Linked DNA regions of Homo sapiens: region 1 is linked to region 2. Evidence: fine-mapped expression QTL. A gene starts in region 2. The other region holds a variant in brackets. All regions are shown on one strand. Distances are between the middles of the regions. Region 1 holds the start of TRAF2 (TNF receptor associated factor 2). Region 2 holds the start of MAMDC4 (MAM domain containing 4).

Region 1 (4,375 bases), 35 kb after region 2:
CAAAAAAAAAAATAAATAAAGTGCACAACCCAGTAGATTAGCACACCGGCCATGTCGGGCGGCCGTCACCACTGTCCGGTTGCAGAGCATTACCTCACCCCAAAAGGAGACCCCATAGCCTTAATACCTTACTTAAGTGTGCAGTATTCTTTTAGTCCTGTTTCTCATAAATGTTACCCAAATTGAGGCGCCGCTCTGCGCCCGGCACCGGGGGAGGCGGAGGGACCCGCAGGTGTCGGGTAGGTGCGGCCGCCCCGCCAGGGCCCCGCGTCCCGCGCGCGACGCGCGCCTCGTGGGAACCGGTGTCGCCCGGCTTGGGCTCCCGGCTCACCTCTCGGGTGTGCGGCAGGGGTCTCCGCCCCGGGGCCACGGGAGGGGAAGCAAGGGCCTCGCTGTCTCGCCGCACCTGGGGAAGGGACCCAATTAGCGCGGACCCCACAGCGCAGCACCTCACCAGCTCCCCGCACCAACGCCCCGGCGCGCTCTTTGAGGAAAAAGCAGAGGGCGACTTAGGTACCCACGCCGTCTCAGCGCCGACCAATCGGCGCACGCTGCGGCTCCTGCGGGCTCGCTGGTTGGCTCCGGCGTCAGTCCGTCAGGCGCGCTCGGAGCGGGGCGTATCTGGCCAATGGCTCTCGCTACAGCTTCCTGAGGGCTGGCTGGTTGGCTCCCATGTCCGTCCGTCAGGCGCACGCGGCGGAGCGGCGGCGGCGGCGGCGGCGTTGGGGGCGGTAGCTGGGCGGGCCCTTAGTTCCGGGCGCGCTGCGACCGTTGGGTGAGGCGAGCGCGGGGTCGGGTGCGGGGTCGGGCGCGGGCGCGGGGTCGGGTGCGGGGTCGGGCGCGGGGTCGGGCGCAGGCGCGGGCACCTCTCAGGGAGACTCCGGGCCGGAGCGGGAGCGGGGGCGGGAGAGGCCGCGGGGCGGGGGCGGGGCCAGCCCGAGGGGATTTCTCTGAGCCGCTGGGCCGGAAACCAAGTCCGAGCGTGGCTGGCGCGGGAAAGTTCGGGAACGCGCGCGGCCGTGCTCGGAGCAGCGCCAGGGCACGGTCCGGGGTTTTGCGCGGGGTCGCGGCTCCCAGTACCGCCTGAGGCCCGTGGGCGGCCCACCCGGCCCTGCCCCGTCCCGGGTCCGTCGCTCCCCCGCACCCTGTCGCCCCTCCACGCTCAGCTGTGGGCCCCTCGTGTCCCCGAAGCCCCGCACCCTCAGCCGGCTGCGTGCTCGGGAGGGTCAGGGGCGCCTCCGACCCCTGAGTTTGCCAGCGCCCCCCAGCCAGGGGTCGGGGAAGACCAGTGAGGCTGGGGGCGGAGCCGACTCTGCTGCCTTCCTGCCCAGTGGCTGGGGAGACCCAGGCTGAGCCTGGGTGAAAAGTCCCTCTGGCTGCTGGGAGGGTCGGGGGCAGCAAGGAGCCAGTGCGGGGATGGGCTGCGGTGGACCGGGCCGGGATCGGGGCCGGGGCCTGGTCCTGGCAGTAGCAGGGGATGTTTGTGGAAGGTAGAGCCGAGAAAAAGAGGAGTTGCAATGTCTGCAAGAATCTGGCGTGAGCAGCTGAAGGCTGGTGCTTCCTAGGCCAAGATGAAGGAGTCACAGCGCCCATGGCCTCTCGGGAGGCGGCCAGATGGGCAGCCTGGGGTCAGGGGAACGGTCAGGGCCAGAGCTGGGTATTTTGGAGTTGTCATTTTGAGGCCC[C/G]GAGGGCTGAGGGTCAGTGCAGAAGAGCACCAAGCCTCCACTCGGTGTAGGGCCGACAGGGGGTGGGGTGTCTGGCAGCCGGTGAAGACGGGGCTCGGAGGAGGAGGGAGTCTGGTCTGGGTCAAGTCAAGGGAAACTAGGACTGAGAACGGACCCTGCTCTGTGGCCACATGATTTTGAAGGGACGGAATTACTGCCCTGTAACTCAGTCTCTCTCCCTGTTAATAGCCCTAGTTTTTAATAAGAGGAACTGAATGTATTAATGGGTGGACACTTGTAAGGTTCAAGATCTCCTCTTCTACCACGCTTGCTTCTGATACTTTTGTATAAACAGTTGTTAAGAGTTTAGGTTGTTATCAAGCTTCTATTTGGTATTATTTTGAGCCTGAAAAAGATGGGGTTACATATAAAATTGTAATTTTATTTATTTATTTTTTGAGATAGTTTTGGTCTTGTTGCCCAGGCTGGAGTGCAGTGGCTCGATCTCGGCTCACTGCAGCCTCCGCCTCCTGGGTTCAAGCGATTTTTCTGCCTCAGCCTCCCGAGCAGCTGGGATTACAGGCGTGCACCACCACGCCCGGCTAATTTTTTGTATTTTTAGTAGAGATAGGGTTTCATCATGTTGGCCAGGCTGGTTTCAAACTCTTGACCTTAGGTGATCCACCCGCCTCGGCCTCCCAAAGTGCTAGGATTACAGGCATGAGCCACCGCGCCCGGCCATGAAATTACAGTTTTAAAGTTAACTTCTAGTATTTGGAGGGCCTCATATTCATGGCTGCATGCAGATCAGTGTTCCTGAATATTACTCAGATGAGCTTTTATAGAAGTGGGTTAGAATCAGGTGCCATTGACGCCTGTAGTCCCAGCTACTCCGGAGGCTGAGGCAGGAGAATGGCGTGAACCCGGGAGGCGGAGCTTGCAGTGAGCCGAGATCGCGCCACTGCACTCCAGCCTGGGTGACAGAGCGAGACTCCATCTCAAAAAGAATCGGGTGCCACCCAGTGAACTCTTACGTGGAGTCCAGTATTGTATGAAGCAGTTGTGTGCTGTTGGTGGAGACATGAATTGAGGTTTGAATCTCCAGCATTTGGGGCATCTTGGAGTCTGCTTGTGAGAAGGGCGAGGCCTGGGTTGAACCCAAGCGTTTGCGGCGACTAGGTGACCCCTGCAGCGGCCAGGTTGCACCCATATCTGATTTGATGTCATGGTTTGGGCAGTGTTTGACTTGTGTAACAATACAGCTTGTCCTTTTGAGAGTCACCGATGCCACCAAACCATGTTCACACACCAGAGTCAGGATGCCAGGTCTCAGCTGCCTGATGACTCCAGCTTAGTGAAGGCCTCTGATTTCTTGTGGGGGTGTCCCATTGTGAAGGGAACACACAGCTCGGCCCTACCAGCAACAAGGGTGCCAGATGCCCCCACTCTCCTGTGGAGGGGAGTCTCGCTCTGTCACCCGGCTGGAGTGCAGTGGCACGATCTCGGCTCACTGCAACCTCTGCCTCCTGGGTTCACGCTATTCTTCTGCCTCAGCCTCCCGAGTAGCTGGACTACAGGCACCCGCCACCACGCCCAGCTAATTTTTTGTATTTTTAATGGAGACGGGGTTTCACCATGTTAGCCAGGGTGGTCTCGATCTGATCTCGTGATCCGCCCACCTCGGCCTCCCAGAGTGCTGGGATTACAGGTGTGAGCCACCACTGAGGGGCTTTTTTACGTTAAAACTTGTTTGTTTGTTTTTCTTTTTTTGTTTGTGTGGTTTTTTCTGTTTTTTTTTTTTTTTTGAGACGGAGTCTCGCTCTGTCCCCCGGTGTGAGCCACCACGCCTGGCCTTTTTTTTTCTTTTTTTGAGACAGAGTTTCGCTCTTGTTGCCCAGGCTGGAGTGCAATGGTGCGATCTCGGCTCGCTGCAACCTCTGCCTCCCAGGTTCAAGTGATTCTCCTGCCTCATCCTCCAGAGTAGGTGGGATTACAGGCACCCACCATAATGCCCGGCTAATTTTTGTGTTTTTAATAGAGACAGGGTTTCTCCACTTTGGTGAGGCTGGTCTCGAACTCCTGACCTCAGGTGATCCACCTGCCTTGGCACTCCCAAAGTGCTGGGATTACAGGTATGAGCCACCTTGCCCGGCCTTAAAACCTGTTTTTGACATTTCTTTGCCATTTTAACTTTTTTGTTATTTTATTTTTATACCTGAGGTCTTGTTATGTTTCCCAGGCTGGTCTCGAACTCCTGGCCTGAAGTGATCCTCCAACCTCAGCCTCCCAAGTAGCTGGGATTACAGGTGCAAGCCACTGTGTCAGTTGGTCACCGCATGTGTGAGAGTTCCCCCCACACTTATTCAGTCGGTCACCACTTGTGTGAGAGTCGCCCCTGCATGCTCATTCAGTCGGTCACTACATTTGTGACAGTCATCCCCGCATGCTCATTCAGTCGGTCACCGCATGTGTGATAATCACCCCCGCATGCTTGTTCAGCTCGTCACCGCGTGTGTGAGAGTCCCCACCGCACGCTCGTTCAGCCGGTCACCGCGTGTGTGAGAGTCCCCACCGCACGCTCGTTCAGCCGGTCACCGCGTGTGTGAGTCCCCCCCGCACGCTCGTTCAGCCGGTCACCGCGTGTGTGAGTCCCCACCGCACGCTTGTTCAGCCGGTCACCGCGTGTGAGTCCCCACTGCACGCTCGTTCAG
Region 2 (4,311 bases):
GGTAGTGCCAGCAGGCGTCTTCTCTTCTCCAGGCCTATGGTCCTGCCCAGCACGCCATTTCAACTGAGAAAATCAAAGCCAAGTACCCCGACTACGAGGTCACCTGGGCTAACGACGGCTACTGAGCACTCCCAGCCCGGGGCCTGCTGCCTCCAGCAGCCACTTCAGAGCCCCCGCCTTTGCCTGCACTCCTCTTGCAGGGCTGGCCCTGCCTGCTCCTGCGGCAGCCTCTGGTGACGTGCTGTCCACCAGGCCTTGGAGACAGGCTAGCCTGGCCACAGAATTAAACGTGTTGCCACACCTGCCGGCTTCTGAACTCTGTCCTTGGCTTCCTGCACCCTGCGTCACCACCTCCGGGGGCCCCCAGACCCTAACTAAAGCAGGTGGGTGGGGGAACACAGGAGTGGCCCCAGGGAGTGGCGGTGCACACTCAGCCCTTTGGGGTCTGATAAAGGGGCCCGCTGATGGCCTGACTGCTCTTCCCACGGCCATCGTCCTCCAGGGCATCTTGGAGGAGGTCTGGCAAGCCCTTGCGAGAGGAGTCAGGGCCTGGTCCCTCGGGCTGGCCAAGACCTGGGGCGCCCACCAGTGCTCCCTCCTATGAGCCCATCCCAGGGCTCCCCAGTGTCCTGTCTGCCCTGAGGCTCCTTCCGTGACCTGCAGGCTCCTTCCATGACCAGCCCCATGGGGCCTACCAGTATCCAGGGTCAGGTCGCACAGCTGCATCTACCCCACAGGCTCACGTTGACTCTGGAGGCCCCTCCCAGGTCCCTCTTGCACCCGGCAGGGCTGTGGGCAGGACACGGGTTCAGGCCTTGCCCTGGGAAGCCCCATACACAGTGGGACTCCATGGGGTGGTGCAGGGGCACCCTGGGGGCCAGGGCTGGTTGTACACAGGGCACCCCCACCTTTGTCAGCTCACTGGTCCTCCGGCCAGCCTCTCCAGACGGGCACTGTCATAACCACATTTTACAGACCGGGACACTGAGGCTCAGTGACACAAGCTCCGAGGTCACACCATGGGAAATCACAAACAGGGCCTGGCCCCAAATGCCACACTCCTTCCCCAGCCCCAAAGACCCTGCCCCAAGCATGAGTCTGCTCCATGAGAAACCGAAGTTTCTGGGCTCCTAGGGACCCTGTATCTGGCACCGGACAGCACCTGGCTGCTCAGGACGAATGAATGACGGCGTGATCCTCCACAGCCTGACTTAAAGGCAGGTTCCCCACGGCTGAGAACGCAGGGACCAGCTCTGGTGCACGTGCTGGACTCCTGCAGCTGCTGGACTGGTTGAGTCCTGACCTTGGCCAGCACCACGCTATTGCCAGAGGCACAGTGAGAGGCCACGGCGGCCTCTGCCCGCCCCACACTGCCGAGCAGAGTCCTGGTGGGGTGCCTGGGTCCCTCCCCATTCCAGTGGGAGCCTCCCCTTCACCAGGCAGGGCAGGGCAGGGTGGAAGAGCCTGACCTTGTGTCTGAGGGAGCCGGGCAGGTGGGAGCTGACCCTGGGTCAGAGGCCCCCTCCTGGGGCCACTTTCACGGCCCATGCTTGGCACCGTCAGCACTGGGTGGGGCCGGGCCGAGGGGCCCTCCACTTAACAGCAGAGTCAGCGTGCGGGGCCAGCGCAGGCTGATAACCGCACGGAACTTCCCAGGCACCCTGTGTGGCCGCACTGCTCCCTCTGGCCCAACCATGCCTCTGTCCAGCCACCTGCTGCCCGCCTTGGTCCTGTTCCTGGGTAAGTAGTCTGGTCCCACTCCTGAGGCAGGACCAGGGGCCCTGGCTTCTGAGCCTACCATCTGTGTGGCAGTGACGGACACCAGGGCTGATGCCTGAGCCCCAAAGGGAAGGAGGGTTGCAAGGTACTACCTTGGCCGGCCTGCAAGGGGGGTGACCTGGAATCAGCCCATGGGGTCCTCGGGCCTGCCAAGCAAAGGAAGAGGCACGACTCCCCTCCCAGTCTGGGACAAGAGGGCTCAGGAGGTGCCCCCAGCTCTGCCAGCCTTCATCTGCCACCCTTGGACTGGGTGGAGCTTGTGGAGGCCCTGGGCCGCCCGTCGATGCCTCCCATTGGGGGTCGCCCTCCCAGTGCCCAGTTCCCTGCTGGGCACTCTGGGTTCCTGCTACCTTTCTTGGGGTGCCCCATGGCCGGGTCCCCCTCCCCAGCCTCTTCAGGGCTGGAAACAGGAACGTGCTGTGCTTGGTCCTGAGCCGGGTGGGAGTTCTCTGTGGGTCCCAGCCCCTCCCTGCTCCATCTCCTGGTCTGAGGGGCATCCCCGGACAAAAGATGTCCAGTGCTAAAACTGAATAGTCCTAGGCAGGCTGGGATGGCTGGTCACCCTGCCCCCAGGCCACCTGGCTGTCAACCTCCCAGCAGCAGGGTCCTCAGGCTGGGCCTGGGTCCCCAACCACTGCAGGAGCCCTGGCCAGGCCGTGTGCAACTTCGTGTGTGACTGCAGGGACTGCTCAGATGAGGCCCAGTGTGGTGAGCCAAGACCAGATGGGCGGGCAGGGCCAGTGCGAGCAGGTCTGGCACACACCTGACCACCCACTCTCCCAGGTTACCACGGGGCCTCGCCCACCCTGGGCGCCCCCTTCGCCTGTGACTTCGAGCAGGACCCCTGCGGCTGGCGGGACATTAGTACCTCAGGCTACAGCTGGCTCCGAGACAGGGCAGGGGCCGCACTGGAGGGTCCTGGGCCTCACTCAGACCACACACTGGGCACCGACTTGGGTGAGGCCAGGGCAAGTCTCTGTGCGCCCCTGTCCCAATACCCTCCTTGCTCCCTGCCCCGTCTCCTGACCTCTCACCTGCGCCAGGCTGGTACATGGCCGTTGGAACCCACCGAGGGAAAGAGGCATCCACCGCAGCCCTGCGCTCGCCAACCCTGCGAGAGGCAGCCTCCTCTTGCAAGCTGAGGCTCTGGTACCACGCGGCCTCTGGAGGTGCACCCTGGACCCCCAAGGCTCGTGGGGGGTGCCCAAGGGGAGGGCGGGTGGGCAGCTGGGGACAAGCAGGGCCGCAGCTGCCCTGGGACCCCTGACATTGCAGATGTGGCTGAACTGCGGGTGGAGCTGACCCATGGCGCAGAGACCCTGACCCTGTGGCAGAGCACAGGGCCCTGGGGCCCTGGCTGGCAGGAGTTGGCAGTGACCACAGGCCGCATCCGGGGTGACTTCCGAGTGAGCTGGGAGGGTCTGGACGAGTGGGGGCCTTGAGGAGGGGTCTGGGCCCTGACTTAGGTCCTAAGAGCCTGTTCTCTTCAGGTGACCTTCTCTGCCACCCGAAATGCCACCCACAGGGGCGCTGTGGCTCTAGATGACCTAGAGTTCTGGGACTGTGGTCTGCCCAGTAAGGCACCGCCTCTTCCTGTTCCACCCCCGGGAGGGCCCCCACCTGCCCACTCCCCTGCTCAGACCCTGTCTGCCCCCGAGTGCTCTCCCACTCCTGGGGCCTCGGTGAAGGGTTAACCCTGCCCCACCCAGCCCCCCAGGCCAACTGTCCCCCGGGACACCACCACTGCCAGAACAAGGTCTGCGTGGAGCCCCAGCAGCTGTGCGACGGGGAAGACAACTGCGGGGACCTGTCTGATGAGAACCCACTCACCTGTGGTGAGGCCGGAGTGGGGGCCCAGAGTGAGGCTGGGAGACTGGACGCCTCGGTGGGGGCCCTGGCACTCATCCAGGAGGGGGTGCCTTGGATCCTTGGATGGTCCTTCTTGGGGTGTGGTTGCCAGGGCCCCCCTGGAGCTGGGGCCATACGGCTTCAGGAAGCACTGCCTGGTGGCCCTGACACGCCCACCTCCTGCCCTAGGCCGCCACATAGCCACCGACTTTGAGACAGGCCTGGGCCCATGGAACCGCTCGGAAGGCTGGTCCCGGAACCACCGCGCTGGTGGTCCTGAGCGCCCCTCCTGGCCACGCCGTGACCACAGCCGGAACAGTGCACAGGGTGAGGCCCACAGAGGACCCGGCCCAGGCCCTGCCCACGCAGCCACAGCCCAGTGGCCCTGGCCCACTCCCGTCCTTTCCCGCAGGCTCCTTCCTGGTCTCCGTGGCCGAGCCTGGCACCCCTGCTATACTCTCCAGCCCCGAATTCCAAGCCTCAGGCACCTCCAACTGCTCGGTGAGATGGGTGGGGCTCACAGGGCCTCCCTGCTCTCCGTGCTGGCTGCCCCGGTGCAGGCCCCCAGCCAGCTCTTGGTTCCACAGCTGGTCTTCTATCAGTACCTGAGTGGGTCTGAGGCTGGCTGCCTCCAGCTGTTCCTGCAGACTCTGGGGCCCGGCGCCCCCCGGGCCCCCGTCCTGC

What was found. PIP is the estimated chance that this variant, and not a neighbour inherited with it, causes the effect.
Region 1: its variant is the best candidate, but not a certain one, in a credible set for the expression of MAMDC4 in whole blood (TOPMed, PIP 0.50).

Annotation. Positions count from the first base shown.
Region 1 is chr9:136,885,767-136,890,141 of GRCh38, forward strand. TRAF2 (TNF receptor associated factor 2) reads left to right here and starts at 750. Exons shown (of 11, transcript NM_021138.4): 1 at 750-775. MIR4479 (microRNA 4479) reads left to right here and starts at 967; the gene lies at 967-1,037. It overlaps LOC105376326 (a long non-coding RNA gene), which reads right to left and starts at 488. Exons shown (of 3, transcript XR_930448.2): 1 at 332-488. RefSeq lists silencers at 175-304, 525-1,334 and enhancers at 711-1,446, 1,447-2,182. The variant C/G (reference allele first, on the strand shown) is at 1,686.
Region 2 is chr9:136,850,723-136,855,033 of GRCh38, forward strand. MAMDC4 (MAM domain containing 4) reads left to right here and starts at 1,624. Exons shown (of 27, transcript NM_206920.3): 1 at 1,624-1,740; 2 at 2,380-2,487; 3 at 2,563-2,736; 4 at 2,823-2,948; 5 at 3,055-3,185; 6 at 3,270-3,354; 7 at 3,489-3,614; 8 at 3,817-3,954; 9 at 4,040-4,128; 10 at 4,215-4,311. The coding sequence starts at 1,695. It overlaps PHPT1 (phosphohistidine phosphatase 1), which reads left to right. Exons shown (of 3, transcript NM_014172.6): 3 at 33-302. The coding sequence ends at 125.